Linked DNA regions of Homo sapiens. Each later gene encodes a partner of the first gene's protein in a complex. Each region holds a gene or a part of one and is shown in the gene's direction. Other genes may lie near its edges. The genes, in order: LAMTOR4, FLCN and LAMTOR2.

Region 1 (2,965 bases):
CTAGAACTACAGGCAAGCACCACCACGCCCAGCCATTAAAAAAAAAAAAAAAATGTGTGGAGACAGGGGCCTTGCTATGTTGCCCAGGCTGGTCTCAAACTCCTGGCCTCCAGCATTCCTCCTGCCTTGGCCTCCCAGAGTGCTGAGATTACAGGCATGAGCTCCTGTGCTTGGCTGGAAGAAGTTATTTTAAAGGAGGAATCAGTATATCTTGCTAATGACTAGAAATAGGTAATAGAGGAAATATTTCTGTAGCCAGAACTCTAAAGCCTGGAAGAGTGATGATGCCTTAAGAAACATGTCCCTGCGTGGTGGCTCACGCCTTTAATCCCAGCACTTTGGGAGGCTGAGGTGGGTGGATCACTTGAGGTTGGGAGTTCGAGAGCACCCTAGCCAACATGGTGAAACCTCATCTCTACAAAAAATTAGCCTGGCATGGAAGCACATGCATGTAATCCCAGCTTCTTGGGAGGTTGAGGCAGGAGAATTGCTTGAACCCAGGAGGCAGAGGTTGCAGTGAGCCAAGATTGCACCACTGTACTCCAGCCTGGGTGATAGAGTGAGACTCTGTCTCAAAAAACAAACAAACAAACAGGAAATCAAAAAAAGAAGTGGATTGGGAAGGAGGTGGATAAGGATAAGGTGAAATTTGATGGCCCAACTTTAGACATTGAGTTTGATATAAAATAGCAGTTAATATATATTGCTAGTTCAGCAAAAGGAACTAAATCTAGTGGAGGCCCATATCAAGGAAGAGGGAAGAGGAAGTTGAGACAGTCACCAGAAAAGAGGAAGCCCAAGCCACTGTCCCATCACTTACTCTAGGGGTCAACAGAGGGAGGTATTCAAGGACAAAGGGAATGTTTATGTTTGAGATTCTGCAAACAGGGCAGCAAGTGTGAAGACAGAAAAAGATGGAGCCATTAACAGGTAAGTGGTGGGCAGGCATTCATTTTGGAGAATGTGGCTTTATCAAATAGGCAGGGACATGGGAGAAATCCAGTTTTATGGGGTTAGAAAAGCATGGTCAATAAAGAGATGGATGGCCAGGCACGGTGGCTCACGTCTGTAATCCCAGCATTTTGGGAGGCTGAGGCGGGCAGATCATTTGAGGTCAAGAGTTTGAGACCAGCTGATTAATATGGTAAAACCCCGTCTCTACTAAAAATATAAAAAATTAGCTAGATGTGGTGGTGCTGGTACGTGCCTGTAATCTCAGCTATTTGGGAGGCTGAGGCAGGAGAATCACTTGAACCCGAGAGGCCGAGATTGCACCACTGCACTACAGCCTGGGTGACAGAACGAGATTCCGTCTCAAAAAAGAAAAAAAAAAAAAAGATGGATAAGTTACTGCTCATCCGGGGAAGGCCAGTATTATGGGAAACAGGATGGCATCCGGAGGGTGACAACATTATAGGGGGAGATTTCAGGTTGTTTTTTTCCAAAGCTGAGGGTACTGGCAAGCCAAGGGGGAGAGGGTCTAAGTGTGAGAACCAAGGGGACTGTGCCTGGAATTCCTTCCTGAGCCTGTGCCGTAATGCCCGCCCCTCTCCCTCCTCCGTCTGCATGCAGTCATCTGGGGACCTGGAGAATGATGAGCAGGCAGCCAGTGCCATCTCTGAGCTGGTCAGCACAGCCTGCGGTTTCCGGCTGCACCGCGGCATGAATGTGCCCTTCAAGCGCCTGTCTGGTGAGCCCCTGCCCCTGCCCTTGGTGGTGGTACTGGGAGCGGGGGGCTACTTCCAGGGGCTTCTCGGCTTCTCTTCTTCCAGCCTCCTACCATCTCCTGGGGTCTCTGGTCTGGCCACTTTCCTCCCTTTGGGACTCCCTGGTATCAGAATTGTGAATGAGAAGGCAAGAGAAAGGAGATCTAGCAGAGGCCACTCATCTTCAAATCTCTGAGCCTGGAACTATAGAACTTCTTTGGCTTTGATCCCAGCCAATGTGCGTGTGGCCCCGCCCCATGGAGTCTGTTGCACCCACTAACTCTGTGCTCCCTTCCCTCTCCTGGGGCGGGGGAAGGTGTGTCTCTCCTCCAGTGGTCTTTGGAGAACACACACTGCTGGTGACGGTGTCAGGACAGAGGGTGTTTGTGGTGAAGAGGCAGAACCGAGGTCGGGAGCCCATTGATGTCTGAGCCTGCCGGAGGGCGAGGGTCGGAGAAGCGGATTGGGTCCTGGGCCTCTGTGATGAGGCAGGCACACCTGTCGGTCTTGGCTTGCTGCTAGAACTAGGGCCTTCTGCTCGCCCACCTCCCACCCCTACCTGGACGGGCCCAGGCTTGGGGACTCTGAGCTGTGTTAAGGAGAACAAGGGCAAGGAGACCTCCCTTTGTGCTCCCTCACTCCCTAATAAACATGAGTCTGATGTTCTCCAGCCCAGGGACATGTGTGTTTAGTGTTGGAATGGTTACACCCCATGTCTGTCTTCCACCTTCTGGGGAGAAAGTCATGCACCTTAGCCCAAGTTGGGTGCGGCAGGGCCACCTCTGTGTGCTATAAAACTGGGAAGCAGAAAAAGCTGGAGGGGAAGGGAGTCACCCTGAGCCCTGGCGACCTCTGCTCTTCCCATCAGTACACAAACTAGTCATCCTTCTCCCTCCTGAACAGGCATTTAATAGTCTTATTTCAGTTGGAAGCAATAGTTGGAAAATAAGTTACAGGAACAGACCAAAAAAAAAAAAATTAAAGTGCTTCAGGCTGCAAACGTAAACATAAGGGGCAGGAGGCTACCTGGCCCTGTCCCCAACCCCTGAGACAGGAAGGTCACTGTCAGGGGCCCTTAGCCATCACCACCCTCTAATCTCAGCCCTGCGGGAGGGAGGGAGGGAATGTCAGAGGTGGGAAAGAACTCAACGGGAATGAGGAAGAGACTTTGTAAACTCAGAACCAGGGTAAAGGGCCGGGGACAAGGGAGCTCTGGGAACCCTTGCCCTGGCCTAGGGGTGGGGCCAGCCCCCCCCACA
Region 2 (7,179 bases), on another chromosome or scaffold:
GGAAGTGGCTTGTCAGCGTTGCCTCTGGTTTCCCTCTCCTGCTTGAGAAGGAAACTGCCAGGCCTATGGCCTGAAAAGTAAGTTGGTGTGATGTAGATGCTGCCAGAGCACCCCCTTATAACCAAGAGTAAGAAAGATGGGGACTTGGCTGGATGCAGTGGCTCATGCCTGTAATCCTAGCACTTAGGGAGGCTGAGGTAGGTGGATCACCTGAGGTCGGGAGTTCGAGACCAGCCTGGCCAACATGGTGAAACTCTGTCTCTACTAAAATACAAAAATTAGCCAGGTGTGGTGGCAGACACCTGTAATCCCAGCTACTCAGGAGGCTGAGGCAGGAGAATCACTTAAACCTGGGAGGCAGAGGTTGCAGTGAGCTGAGATCACGCCATTGCACTCCAGCCTGGGTGACAAGAGTGAAACTTGGTCTCAAAAAAAAAAAAAAAAAAAAAAAAGGAAAGATGGGAACTTGCAGCCTTGACCTCCCAGGCTGAAGTGACCTCCCAACTTAGTCCCCCAAGTAACTTGGACTAGAGGCATGCCCGGCTAATTTTTTTTTTTTTTTTTTTTTTTGAGATGGAGTCTTGCTGTGTCGCCCAGGCTGGAGTGCAGTGCCGTGATCTTGGCTCACTGCAAGCTCTGCGTCTCAGGTTCACGCCATTCTCCTGCCTCAGCCTCCCGAGTAGCTGGGACTATAGGCGCCTGTCACCATGCCTGGCTGATTTTTTTTGTATTTTTAGTAGAGATGGGGTTTCACCATGTTAGCCAGGATGGTCTCGATCTCCTGACCTCCTGATCTGCCCACCTCGGCCTCCCAAAGTGCCGGGGTTACAGGCGTGAGCCACCGCGCCCGGCCTGGCTAATTTTTTTTAAAAATTTTTTGTAGAGACAGGGTCTCACTGTGTTACCCAGGCTGGTCTCAAACTCATGGGCTGAAGCAATCCTCCTGCCTTGGCCTCCCGAAGTGTTGGGATTACAAGCATGAGCCACTGAGCTGGCCTCAAGACCCTATCTCTAAAAAAATAAATACAGAGATCCTTGATCAAATACTGGTTTAGAGTGCCTCAGAGGTGCAAGAGTTCAGCTAAAATGTCAGCTCCTGCTGAGAAGGTCAGAGGCCTGCTAAGCCATTCAGAACCCTGGGGAGTGTCTACATCCTCATCAGACACGTTCTTATTTGAGACTGGCTGTAAGCTGCTCCCATTATTTTTCATGCTACGAAGGCCTCTAATCTTAGAAATAGCTCTAATTTTTTTTTTCTCTTACCTAGAAAACGCCAGGTCTTCAAGGGTGTCTGCCACCACCATGCCTGACCCATTTGGCAGCAGCCTCGTGTGTGGTGGTCTGGTGTGGACGGTGGAAGCGTGATTCTGCTGAGTGTCAGGTTAGTGTGGGTGCTCTGCAGGTGGGCTGAGACTTGGCCCAGGCTTGCTGTCCTGTGCATGTCTTGCTAGAAGGAACCTTATTTCTCTTCCCCTGATGCCTCTCAGAGAAAGGCGTGGCCTTCCTTTTCGCAGTTTAATGCCTTTACCTTTCCTTTGGGTCCTGCTACCCCTTACTCCATCAGTGGTCGCCCCATCTCCTGTTGAGCAGTAGATTTTTAAGCCACTCATCATAGTGAACCCTGTGGGCCCTTTATTGAAACTGTCTGTTTGGTTCCTGTGCCACTAGACTCTGGCTCCGGCCTTCCCCACAGCTGTGGCTCCTGAACCTCTGCCGCCCCTAGATTCCGCCCCTTTCTTGGCAACAGCTGTCATCTTTCCAAGGGCGACTTCTCAGTCCTCTCATTTATCTAACACGTGAATGTGGCGCTTCCTGTGTGTCAGGAAGGCACTTTGGAGGCGCAGTTCTGCGATGAGGAGCGCTACGACTCAAAGCAGGGCAGGGGAGGGTGTCGGGGTGGAGGGGAGCTCTTCTGGTGGGCTGGCAAGGGGTACTCTGAGCAGGGGAGCAAGTGGAGGCCGAGTGGTGAGGAGTGAGCCAGGTGACGGTGTGTGGAGCATTCCTGACCTTTGTCCCCAGCCCTGCCCTCTCCTGTCCTGCAGCCTGCATCTTTGCTGAGTTCTCAGGGCCTTCCAGCTAGAAGTTCTGCCATCTGTTAAATGCGTATGTTTCCTCTCCCGCTGCCTGTCTGCCTCCCTCTCGGAGTGCACCTACAGAGCACTAGCCCTCCATTCCCTGCCAGCCACACCCAGGGTCTCCCTCTCTGACTCCCACACCTGCCTCACTGCCAGCCCAGCTAAGGTTCTCTTCAAATGTCTGTTTTCTGTCTGCCTCTGCCATTCCCAGTGTGACCACTCGTGCTCAGCCGTATCTCAGCAGGAGGACAGGTGCCGGAGCAGCTCGTGCAGCTAAGCAGCCAACTGCAGAAACGTCAGGTGGGTGGTGCATTCGCAGGCATGCTGAAGAAGCAGTTCCAGGCATGGGCCGCCGGCAGAGAGGCTGGCTGCAGCACCCCCCACCACCATGCACATCGTCCTTTGCTTCTTCCTAGAGTTAGCGGCTTTGGCAGGCCATGCCTTGTTTGTGTTCACAGCCTGCCTGTCAGGAGCGAAGACAGAACGTCTGACTTTTGGATCCGTAACAGGGGTGGGGGCTCCCCAGAAGAGAAGAGGCTTTGGGTCCTGGCCAGTGTCCACTACTCAGTCAAACATTCAGAAACTTACATGATTCTTCATCGTCCCAAGCAAGTCTGACTTGGGCCCTTTATTGAAACTCTGTTTCCTCTCCCGCTGCCTGTCTGCCTCCCTCTCGGAGTGCACCTACTGAGCACCAGCCCTCCATTCCCTGCCAGCCACACCCAGAAAGCAATGGGGCTTTCTGGGAAGGCAGAAATATTCTGTGACCTGGGCTATTCAGAGGGGTGGCGTGAGTCGTGTGTGCCTAGCAAACACTCAGGACATGGCCGGTGAGACAGAAGGGCTGAGCTTTTGTCCTAGCTAATATATTAATTAATTAATTCATTATTTATTTTGAGACGGAGTCTCTCTGTCGCCCAGGCTGGACTGCAGTTGCGCAGTCTTGGCTCACTGCAACCTTCGCCTCCTAGGTTCAAGCAATTCTCCCGCCTCAGCCTCTTGAGTAGCTGGGACTACAGGTGTGCGCCACCATGCCTGGCTAATTTTTTTTGTACTTGTAGTAGAAATGGGGTTTTGCCATGTTGGCCAGGCTGGTCTTGAACTCCTGACCTCAAGTGATCTGCCCACCTCGGCCTCCCAAAGTGCTGGGATTACAGGCATGAACAACCGCACTCAGCCTATTTATTTAATTTTTTCGAGACGAAGTCTCACTCACTCTGTCACCCAGGCTGGAATGTAGTAGTACGATCTCAGCTCACTGCAACCTCCACCTCCCAGGTTCGAGCGATTCTCCTGCCTAGGCCTCCCAAGTAGTTGGGACTACAAGCGTGCGCCACCACTCCAGGCTACTTTTTTTTTTTTTTTTTTGAGATGGAGTCTCGCCCTGTCATAAAGGCTGGAGTGCAGTGACCTAGTCTTGGCTCACTGCAACCTCCGCCTCCCAGGTTCAAGTGATTCTCCTCCCTCAGCCTCCCAAGTAGCTGGGTTTATAGGTGACCGCCAACACGCCCAGCTAAGGTTTTTGTTTTATTTTGTTTTGTTTTTGTTGTTTTTGGTTTTTTTTGAGACTGAGTCTCACTTTGTTGCCCAGGCTCGAGTGCCGTGGTGCGATCTCGGCTCACTGCAACCTTGCCTCCCAGGTTCAAGTGATTCTCGTGCCTCAGCCTCCTGAGTAGCTGGGACTACCAGCGCACACCACCACACCTGGCTAATCTTTGTATTCTTAGTAGAGGCAGGGTTTCACTGCGTCGGCCAGGCTGGTCTCAAACTCCTGACCTCAAGTGATCCACCCGCCTCAGCCTCCCAAAGTGTTGGGATTACAGGCTCATGGGATTACAGGCATGAGCCACTGTGCCGGCCTCTCCTAGCTAATTTAAATTTTAAATTTAAGTTGTCACACATAGCTGTGGCCACCGTATGGACAATGTGGGTCTGGCTGCATGTGTCAGGCTGTGTCACATGTCAGGCTGTTGGCTGTGGCTGTCCCCACTGTGCACCTTTGCTTTTGCGGTCTCGTTTCCAGAACTTCTCTGCCAGTGAGAACCCCATGACACACCCCCATTTTAAAGCCTTCTCTGGCTTTCCTGCATTCGTTAGGAAGGCATACTGCCTCATGCTGCCGCGGCCATCCCTCTGCAATGAGTGCTTGGTGTCCCTCAGACTTTGTGCCTGCAGCTGCCCCTGGCCTTCACATGGTTCCGCCGGCATCGCAGCTGTACTGTGGCCAAGCTTGGGGCTTTCCTTGACTCCATGTCCCCACCAGGTGTCCCATTGCTGGCTCTGCCACGGAAACTCTCCAAAGGGCTCTCTCTACCCACTCCTGTGAGCTTTTTCTCCACCGGAAACTGTGTTAAGGTCACCTTTGACTTCATCATTGTTCTGCAGGTTACCACTCCCCCTTTTAAAAAGATTGTGGTGAAATAATACATGACCTAAAATGCGCCATTTGAACCACTGTTCGGCGTGCAGTGCCGTGGCATGAAGTATGTTCACAGTGCTGTGCGGCCATCGCCACCTTCCGTCTCCAGAACTGAGCCCCGCTCTTCCCTCCCAGTCCCCGGCAGCTGCCATTCTGCTCTCTGTCTCTATGGCTTTGAGGACTCTAGGTACCTCCTATTTAAGTGGAATCCTACAGTGTTTATCCGTTTGTGACCAGTGTAGATCATTTCGTGTAATGTCCTTCAGTTTCAGCCGTGCCGTAGCTTGTGGCAGGGTTTCCTTCCTTTTTAAGGCCATGTGACATTCCAGTCCCACCTTGCTAAAGCAGTTTACCTGGTCACTGGGGTGACTCTGGAGCTCCCCTCTGGCCTCACTGCCTGTGCTTGGTCATGTTGGCTAGCTGTCCTCCCTTCTCCACCTCTGAGTCTACAAGGGCTGCACTCCACGGAGGTCCCATGCGTCAGCCCCGACCGCAGCGCTTGGCTCTGCTGCTGTGTCCCGTCCCCGTGAAGGCTCAGCAGGCACTCACTGGGCCTTCTCCCCTGCTCACTGCTCCGCACTCTGCACCCCACCCGCACTGTGCGTCTTCACCCTGCCTGGCCTGGGCCACTGTCCCTTCCTGCTCAGATCAGTCAGCAGGGTGCCTCAGCTTGTTCCCCACCTCCACCCTGGCCCCCTGCCATCTTTTCTGCACATGGGCATGAGTGAACCTATTCAAGTGAAATTCACATTTTCTCATGTCTCATCAGAACCCCCAAAGCCTCCCCAGTCTCTGATAACACATCCAGGGTCTTTCGGTGGCCTGGAGGAGCTATAAGATCTGCTTCCTACAGCCTCCACCCTGTCTGCTGCTGCTCTTTGGACACCGGACCTTACACACCCCTCAGACAGTACAGCACCCACCCTGCCCTTCAACTCTTGCTTGGCCCCGTAAGCCAGTCCTTCCAGGCTCCTGCCTCCTCTGGTCATTCCCTGCGTGGGCCTCTCGCAGGAAGCAGTTTTCCTGTGTCCCCCGCCGACCCCCTGCAGGAGGTAAGCTGCATGAGGGCAGTATCATGTTGCCTAGCACCTTGGCCCACATGGAGCAGGTGCCAAGCAGATATGTATTGGGTGGAGGACCCTCTCCCTGTGGCCTTTTATCTATTTGTTCTCACAGGGTTTGCCAGGTTTGGCTGCAGTTCATGTCACTTGAGGACATTCCTTTCCAGCGCCGTTGGCTTTGTGGCTGTGGCTCTGTCACAGCTCCAGCTGTGCTATCATTGGTCCACATTGTCCCCTCCCCTATTTGCTGTGACTCCCATGGGAAGATCCTATCTCTGTTCCTCTCGCACTGGGGCAAAGCAGTGCTGGCAGGGGGCTGGGGAACTGGCGGGTGGCCTCTCCTGGGCAGGAAGTCCATGGCACCCAGGTGCTCCCTGTGCTCCAGAGGGGCTGGGGAGGTTTCATGGAGTCAATAGGCATTGGCAAGCTGACATGTCCCCTGTCCCACGCAGGCCTGTTGCAGTCTCCAAGGCACCATGAATGCCATCGTGGCTCTCTGCCACTTCTGCGAGCTCCACGGCCCCCGCACTCTCTTCTGCACGGAGGTGCTGCACGCCCCACTTCCTCAAGGGGATGGGAATGAGGACAGTCCTGGCCAGGGTGAGCAGGCGGAAGAAGAGGAAGGTGGCATTCAGATGAACAGTCGGATGCGTGCGCACAGCCCCGCAGAGGGGGCCAGCGTCGAGTCCAGCAGCCCGGGGCCCAAAAAGTCGGACATGTGCGAGGCAAGTGTCTTTGGGGTCTTGGTTTTGTGATCCCTGCAGTAGGTGTGGGATGGACAGGAGGACCTGAGAGCAGTGGACGGGGCCTCCCGGGGTGACACAGACTGCTTCTCAGGGGCCCTTCAGTTCTTTCCGCTCATCCTGACTGTAGCTTTTGTTTTGTTTTGTTTTGTTTTTTTTGAGACAGAGTTTTGCTCTTATTGCCCAGGCTGGAGTGCCATGGTGTGATCATGGCTCACTGCAACCTCTGCCTCCCGGGTTCAAGCAATTCTCCTGCCTCAGCCTCCCGAATAACGAATTACACTTGCCTGCCACCACGCCTGGCTAATTTTGTATTTTTAGTAGAGATGGGGTTTCACCATGTTGGGCAGGCTGGTCTTGAACTCGTGACCTCAGGTGATCCACCTGCCTCGGCCTCCCAAAGTGCTGAGATTACAGGCGTGAGCCACCACACCCAGCCTATGTTAACTTCTTTAACCCACTCTGCCTCCCTGCCGTGGCCTTCATGTTTGTATTCACACACTCCAGCCTGTCCTGGAGGCGGGTCCCCAAAGTCCCGTGCTCCCAGTGGAGTTTCCTGCTCCCAGGACCCCCAGTGTTCTCGGTGGGTCACTCCATCAGCTCTTGAACTCTCGGGAATTAGTGTGAGTTTTCCCCAGTGGGCCACTTGTTTTTGTGGAGGACCTGGGTCAGGGCCCAAAATCAGGGGTGGGTGTTGGACCTGCCACTGCAGTGCAAACGGGAACCCAAGCTTGTTCTTTTGGTTCTGCTGCAGAAGCAGAGGACGTGTAAGAGCTGCATCCATTGCTGGAATTGCCTGTAAGGAATGGGGGATGGGGAGCACCTCAGACCTGGGAAGGAGGGCACCGCCAGGCTGCTGGGGCATCCTTGAGCTGGTTTTG
Region 3 (7,515 bases), on another chromosome or scaffold:
GCTCTCCAGCCCTCTCATACTCACCTGCCTCATGAGTTCAGGGTTATTGAGCATGTGGCTGATCTCAGGGTTCCGCTCCATCAACTGCTGCATCTGGGGGTTGGCCATAATCATGTGACGCATCAGATCAGGGTTAGACATCATATCCTGGACCAGGGGGTTCTCCATGATCTGTGACAGCATCTCAGGATTGGACATCAGCTGCCGCTGCATCTGCTGCTGCAGCTCCATGAAGTTGGCAGAGCCCAGGCCTAGGCTGCCCAGCCCCAGGATGCCCCCAAAGCCAGCTGTGGGAAGGGGGCAGGGTCACAGTCTGCCACAAGAACAGTGTCCTCACTTAGCCAGAGCCACTGAATTCAGATCTCCAGGACACGCCCCAAATGCTTCTCACATGTCCCTCTTCCTGTCATTCCCACAGCCCGGCCCTGATCCACTGCTGGCAAAAAAATGTGAGCCTACTAGACTGAGGCTGTGCCAAACATAGAACTGAGCAGAGAGAAGGCAACCAGCAATGGTCTGTTGAATGAGTGGCCCATGTGGCTACTGCTGGATCCAACTTTTCCCCAGACTCACAGGGTCTTCCATTCCCTTTACCTAGGGTTCCCCACATCCCCAACCCCATTTCTCCCCTCACTCCTAACCCTTAGCCATGGTCCCCACCTCTGAGAACTCCTCAGACTAGTTTCTTCCCCAGCTTGACTCAAGTATCAATGTCTGGAACTCTGTCATGGGGTCCCCTATCCCCATCAGACCAGGAGCAGGAACTCCTGTTTCTCCCTCCTCTTGGCTTTCCCCAACTCCCCAACCCCAAACAAGATTGTGCTCTCCTCTCTGAGGGCTTACAGAGTATGGACGCAGTAGCACTGGGGGATCCCTCCCCAGCCCCCGGAGAGGGCCCCCCACCACTGCTCCTCCGGCTTCCACTGCCAGCATCTGAAGAGGCACTGCCAGAGGTGGAGGGCTGGGCAGGGGTGGCGGGTGAAGCAGGCGTGGTGGAGGGTGCTGAGGCAGGGTCAGGTGTGGAGGGGGAAGAAGCAGTGGCAGCAGCTGGATCTTGAGCCCTGAGGACAGAGAAAGGAGAATCCTGTTGGAGTGAGCACTAGAAGAGGGAAGGTACCGTGACAATCTCTGTGCTTGCTATGGGACAACTATTTTAACCCAAGACCCCTCCTGAGCAGTCCTGAGGCTGGAGTGGGGTGATGGCGGGAGGGCAGTCAGTAAACCAGCAGAGGGAGAAAGGAGCTAGTATTATCTGTCTTCAGGGCATTCTGGGAATGGTAAATCAGGTTCCCTTCCCCTAGAGATGAGATCATATTCATCCAGGAGCTACCTGCCTGGGCCTCAGCTTAGGCCCTCTGGGTACAGTTAAGCAATGAGTGAGAAAGTATCAGATGGGGAGGCCCAATCAGAAGCTGGATCTGCTCTGCTCCTGAACTTACTTCTGAGGGGTCTTGATGACCAGATGGACAGTGAGCCCGTCCTTGATTCCGTGCTGGTTCAGTGTGTCCCCATCCTTGAGGATCTTGCCTGCGAAGATCAGGACCAGCTGATCCTGCTGAGCCTTAAACCTCCGGGAGATTTCCTCTTTGAACTGTGATCAAGAGGCAGAGGTCACTGTGGAGGCTGCCTGGACTCCCCCTACCAGGGACCCTGACTCTTTTTCAACACCTTCTGCACTCTCTTGCTCTCATCTCTAGTCATGGGAAGTCCTTTCTGTAGTCTCGACGCCATTCCTCCAGCTGCAATAAGCATCTCCTTTCTTAACAAAGGAGATGAACCAGTGAGAGGCTCTTCTCTCAGCTCCATCCCAGAGTCTCCCACCCTAGAAAGCCCCTGCTGCTATCTGCCTCCCAGCTTCAGTCCCTCCACCTAGTTCTCTGTAAGGCAGAGCAGCCTCCCATCCCAACTCCTTCAACAGCTTTGGACCTTCAGCCTTCTGAGACCCAATTTTCTCTCCTCTCTATTCCCAGTATTCTCTTAACAACTACAACAAATAGATGCCAGTTATTGAGCACTACCTATTCACCAGTTAAAGATATAGTATATTGTTATTTTCATTTTATTATTATTTTTATCTTGAGATGGAGTCTCGCTCTGTAGCCCAGGCTGGAGTGCAGAGGTGCGATCTTGGCTCACTGTAACCTCCATCTTCCGGGTTCAAGTGATTCTCCTGCTTCAGCCTCCCGAGTGTCTGGGACTACAGGCACACACCACCATGCCTGGCTAATTGTATTTTTAGTAGAGACGGGGTTTCACCATGTTGGCCAGGCTGGTCTTGAACTCGTGACCTCAGGTGATCCACCAGACTCAGACTCCCAAAGTGCTGGGATTACAGGTGTGAGCCACCACGCCCAGCCGTATCTCCATTTTAAAGATGAGAAAACTGAGGATCAGCGAGGTAAGGTAACTTGCCCCAGGCAGACCAGAACTCAGGTCTTGACACCAAAGTCCAGGCTCTTAACTAAACACACTGCCTCTCAATGAGAGCCGTTTTCAAATTCAGCTTTGTAGGGAACATACAGTATTTAAATTCTGAAATTTAGTAATTCTATGTGGTTAGGGAGGGAGCAAGGATGGAGTTAGACTTCCCAAATTCTACCAGCCCCTCCAAAACACAACACAAAACAAAACACAACACACACTTTAAGTAAAAACAGTGCACTTGTTAAGCAGAGGCTGCTTCCAGATCCCTCTCTTCCAACCAGATGGCCTATCTTAAGCCCCGCCTATGTGAAATTATGGAGCGGCCACAGGGGGTGGCGAACACAGGCAACAGTCCGTCATTCAACAAGATTTTATTGAGCACCTACTGCACACCGTGTAAATCTCAGAAGAGCTGAGAACCAAATGTAACCACGTCGATTTGAAAGAGTGGGAAGGATCTGGGCACAGGGAAATCCTCCCCCGACAGCCCCGTCGCTCAGAGAACACTGGGCGTTCTCTGAGGCACAGAGTAGGCGCCGGCGCTCTCCGCCTGCCCCCGGCCCGTTCTCTCAGTTAGCACCTAGCCCGGGCCCCCACTCCGGCACACTCCCCTCAAACCCAGGGTCCTTCCCCCTTCCCGGTGCAAGGTGTCCCCTCCTCACTCTCCACCACGCCCCCAGGCCACAAGGCAAAACCCGCCCCTCAACACGCGCCACGCTCCCCCAGATCTCCCCTCGCAGGGCGCCCCCTACCCGCCTCTCCTTGCCTTCAGCTCCTCGGAGTCCCAGCCGGCCCCCGCCCTCCTCTCCGGGGCCCTCCGGGACGCCGGACCGTCAGAGAGGCCCCCCATCTCTTCGCAGACCCCTCCTCCGCGCTCCCCCCGCCCCCCGCCTGCTGTACTACCTCCTTGACCGAGGCTCGATCGCAGATCACAATTTCCTCCTTGTCCTTGGGGGTCTTGACGGTGACCCGAATGGGGGGCCTCGTCTCGGCCCCGCTCGGCTCCGCCATGCCGCCGCCGCCACCCGGCCGCCCGCCAGCCCGCCCGGCTCCTCCTCCTCCCCGCCCGCCCGGCCGGCCCGGCTCGGCTTCTGCGCCTCCAACACTCCCCTCTCTCCACCTCTCCCCTCCCCTCCCCTCCCCTCCTCTCTCCTCCCCTCCCCTCCCCGAGGCTTCACCGCCCCCTCCGGACCAGCCGCAGCCACAGCGCCCCGGGCGGACCGGGGGGGCCACTGCAGCGGGGTCCGCCCAGGGCCAAGCCCCAGGTCCGGAGCCCGGCCAGGGTCTCGCCAGGCGGGGGCCCCTGGGGGGCCTCTGGGAGGGGGAAGGGGCGTGCCCTTCATTGCGGGGGCGAGGGCGGACTGCCCCGGGAGACCGCGACCCAACGCTGCCCGCCCGAGCCGTGCCGCGGTCCCCTCCAGCCCAAAGCCTCCCCGCCCCCTCCGCGGCTAACTCGGCTCCGGGACAAAGGACTTTCTGTGTCGCCGCTTTATCTCCGTTCCCTGTGATAACTTGGTCTTTCTTGGAAGCCCAAGTCCCTTCCAGGCCAGGGGACTTTCCCGACTTGGAGGTTGGGTTTTCCCACCAAGCACGTCCACCTAGGTTCTCAGCTCTGGGACTGACCCTATAGCCCCGAGGGTCGCGGCCTGAATGGTCTATTAAGAACGGTTCCAGGGAGCTGGGTTTTGGCTGCGTGGCCTTTCAGAGCCTTGGTTTCCTCAAGATAATAATAATAGTACCTCTCGCCTCATCGCACAGAATTGTGCATAACGGAGAAAACTGTTTTGAAAGTAACCAAAGGCGTGCCTGACAAATATGAGGATGTAGTATAATTATTGAATCGTGGACTGCCAAGCGGACACGTTGATTCCTTTCTCCCCGAAGGGGTTAAATGTCCTTCCAGCGCTGCTGCTGTCCTTTCACTCCCGTTCTTTTCCGCCCCCCAACAACCGCGTGGTCGGCTTGGAAAGGCGAACTATAATTCCCAGGGTGCCTCGCGAGGCCACAAAGAACTACGATTCCCAGAGCCCCCCGCGGTGGGGCGGGGTTGAGTCGGAACCACAATAGCCAGGCGAAGAAACTACAACTCCCAGGGCGTCCCGGAGCAGGCCAACGGGACTACGGGAAGCAGCGGGCAGCGGCCCGCGGGAGGCACCTCGGAGATCTGGGTGCAAAAGCCCAGGGTTAGGAACCGTAGGCATGCTGCGCCCCAAGGCTTTGACCCAGGTGCTAAGCCAAGCCAACACTGGAGGCGTCCAGAGCACCCTGTGAGTGCAGACCACGGACCCGAGCGGCGAGCGCTGCAGTGGGGCGGCGCGCGGCTCCCTGAGGGAGGGGTGGGGAAGGATCACCAGGAAGGGAGGAAGCGGCAGAGGGGGCAGCGGCTGGGGATACCGGCCGGGAGGTCCCCTGTCGAAAAGGGAAGCCGGTGTGCTGGGTGCTTAGGGCATGTTCCGGGACACGCTCAGGCCAGAGCCTTGCTGGATGTGCCCTTGGTGGGACTTGGGATGGAAACCCAGACGTTTTACTCCCCGCTCTGAGCACATCGCTATCCCTCCCCGCCCCTCACCAGGCTGCTGAATAACGAGGGATCACTGCTGGCCTACTCTGGTTACGGGGACACTGACGCCCGGGTCACCGCTGCCATAGCCAGTAACATCTGGGCCGCCTACGACCGGAACGGGAACCAAGCGTTTAATGAAGACAATCTCAAATTCATCCTCATGGACTGCATGGTATGGAGAGGGGAGCCAGACTTCCCCTGTCCCCCAAAGGGGATCCCAAGGGGGCGACCTGGACCCCATCCTGGATGGTTGGAGGGGCAGGGACAGGATCTCCGGAAGATTACTAAGAGTTGGTCTGCAGCAGCATTTGTAATAGGCAGGACCCTATTCATCAAGTGGTGGTGAGGAAGGATCCCTGGACCTGAGAGGTCTGACTTGGGTTCTGGTCTCAGCCATCCACTTATCAGTTGTGGAACCTTGGGTAAGTCGCTTAACCTCTCTCAGCTTCCTTACCTCATGTTTAAGGAGAAGACAATAATTTCCCTCTCCCCGCTCCCCTCATGGGTTGTTGTGAAGGTCAGATGAAATAATGGGTATAAACAGTAGAATGACGTGCAAACACAAAGTGTTGTCATCCCAGTTTCACCGACTCACAGAACCATGGCAGTCTCCAGACCCTAGTCCAACCCCTTAAGCTTTCAAAGAAAGGAAAATGAAGTCCAGAAAGGGGAAGTCACCATTAGATTGTGAACTTCTTAGTATCTGTTCGGTCGACAAGTATTTAGGTCCTTGCAGTATTCTCAGGACTAGGGAAAAAATAGCAAACAGAAAGACAAAACCCCCAGCCCTAATAAATCTTACACAGTGATACAATCACGGCTCACTGCAGCCTCGACCTCCCTGGGCTCAGGTGATCCTCCTGCCCCAGCCTCCTGAGTAGCCGGGACTACAGACATGCACCACCACACCTCGCTAATTTTTGCATTTTTCCAGAGACTGGGTTTTGCCATGTTGCCCAGGCTGGTCTCAAACTCCTGGCTCAAGCGATCTACCCACGTTGGCCTCCCAAAGTGCTGGGATTACAGGCGTGAGTCACTGTGCCTGGCCACATTTTTTAAAATAAGTAAAATATATAGTATATATTAGGTATTGAAAATGCAATGGAGAGAAAGCAGGGAAGTGAAAGAGTATGAGTTTGTTGGGTGTATGTGTCAGGGACAGTCTCACTGAAAAGGTGACATTTGATCAATGATCTGAAGAAAGGTGGGGGACAAGCCATGTGGTTATCTGAGGGAAGAATATTTTGGACAGAACAGCAAGTACCAAGGCCCTGAGGCAGAATTATGCCTGCTCAAGGATCAACAGGGTTGGTTGGTATGGCTGGAGTTACGTGAGATGGAGGAGGGTAGTAGGAGATGAGGTCAGAGAGGCAGGGAGTGCAGTGCTTGGTTCCTGGCATACAATAAATACCTAGTAAAAGTTTGCTGAACTTACTTTTGTTTTTTTCAAATTGGCCAGAAGGTGAACTCTCCAGGAAGGATCTTCATTGTAACTCAACTGCCTACTCTCCCCTACCCCCTGCACAACCAATGCCATTTTTAGTTCAACATATGACTCCTACTGGATGCCTAGAGCTGGTGCTATAGGGCAATAGCTTTCAAACGTTTTGACCACAACCCAGCCATAAGAAATACATTTTAAGGGGCTGGGCATGGTGGCTCATGCCTGTAATCCCAGCACTTTGGGAGGCCGAGGCGGGCGGATCACAAAGTCAGGTGTTCAAGACCAGCCTGGCCAACATGGTGAAACCCCATCTCTACTAAAAATACAAAAATTAGCTGGGCATGGTGGTGCGTGCCTGTAATCCCAGCCACTCAGGAGGCTGAGGCAGGAGAATCACTTGAACCCAGGAGGCAGTGGTTGCAGTGAGCCGAGATCACGCCACTGCACTCCAGCCTGGGCAACAGAGCAAGACTCCATCTCAAAAAAAAAAAAAAAAAAAGAAATACATTTTAAGGCTGAGCACAGTGCCTCACTCCTGTAATCCCAACACTTTGGGAGGCTGAGGCTGGAGGATTATCTGAGGCCAGGAGTTCAAGACCAGCCTTGGTGACCTAATAAGACCCCATCTCTACAAAAAAAATTTTAATAAATAAATAAATAGGAAAAAATTTTTTAAGAAAGACATTTTAAGTCAGAGCTCAACACACACATAGACCCACTAAAACAAAAGTCATGAAACAATACTTTTCCTACTACATGTAATATACTTCATTTTTTCTTTTTTGGTTTTTAATGCTGATCAACCTTCTTAATTTATCTCCTAACTGTGGGGTCAAATCTGCAATTTGAAAAACATTACCATGGGAAAAGAGGAGAAATACCAGTTGGGTTACCACTCCCATGCCCCTCTCAGTGTCTGTGGGGTGAGCTCACAGTAATAACATCACTCATTTGGACAACTGTTGGCAGATATGAAATTTCATGGTATTAGCACCCTCACCAACTGGGATGAGGTAGGGATTACAGAAAGAAAAACTGAATTTCTGAGAGACTAAGTTTCCCAGAGTAACATGGTTAGTAGGTG

What was found.
Region 2: LAMTOR4 (region 1) and FLCN share a complex: the UniProt entries of both Homo sapiens proteins name them as parts of the lysosomal folliculin complex.
Region 3: LAMTOR4 (region 1) and LAMTOR2 share a complex: the UniProt entries of both Homo sapiens proteins name them as parts of the ragulator complex.

Annotation. Positions count from the first base shown.
Region 1 is NC_000007.14:100,151,828-100,154,792, forward strand, and holds the end of LAMTOR4 (ragulator complex protein LAMTOR4), read left to right. Parts: intron 1-888; exon of another isoform or gene 889-930; intron 931-1,572; coding exon 1,573-1,690; intron 1,691-2,022; coding exon of another isoform or gene 2,023-2,039; coding exon 2,040-2,137; 3' UTR 2,138-2,376; downstream 2,377-2,965. UniProt on the Homo sapiens protein: As part of the Ragulator complex it is involved in amino acid sensing and activation of mTORC1, a signaling complex promoting cell growth in response to growth factors, energy levels, and amino acids.
Region 2 is NC_000017.11:17,226,990-17,234,168, reverse strand, and holds part of FLCN (folliculin), read left to right. Parts: intron 1-1,267; 5' UTR 1,268-1,381; intron 1,382-2,286; 5' UTR 2,287-2,375; intron 2,376-4,338; exon of another isoform or gene 4,339-6,007; 5' UTR 6,008-6,031; coding exon 6,032-6,280; intron 6,281-7,179. UniProt on the Homo sapiens protein: Multi-functional protein, involved in both the cellular response to amino acid availability and in the regulation of glycolysis.
Region 3 is NC_000001.11:156,050,267-156,057,781, forward strand, and holds the start of LAMTOR2 (ragulator complex protein LAMTOR2), read left to right. Parts: upstream 1-4,515; 5' UTR 4,516-4,623; coding exon 4,624-4,691; intron 4,692-4,996; coding exon 4,997-5,159; intron 5,160-7,515. Other genes in the region: UBQLN4 (ubiquilin-4), read right to left, coding at 25-287, 844-1,061, 1,440-1,591, 3,328-3,435. UniProt on the Homo sapiens protein: As part of the Ragulator complex it is involved in amino acid sensing and activation of mTORC1, a signaling complex promoting cell growth in response to growth factors, energy levels, and amino acids.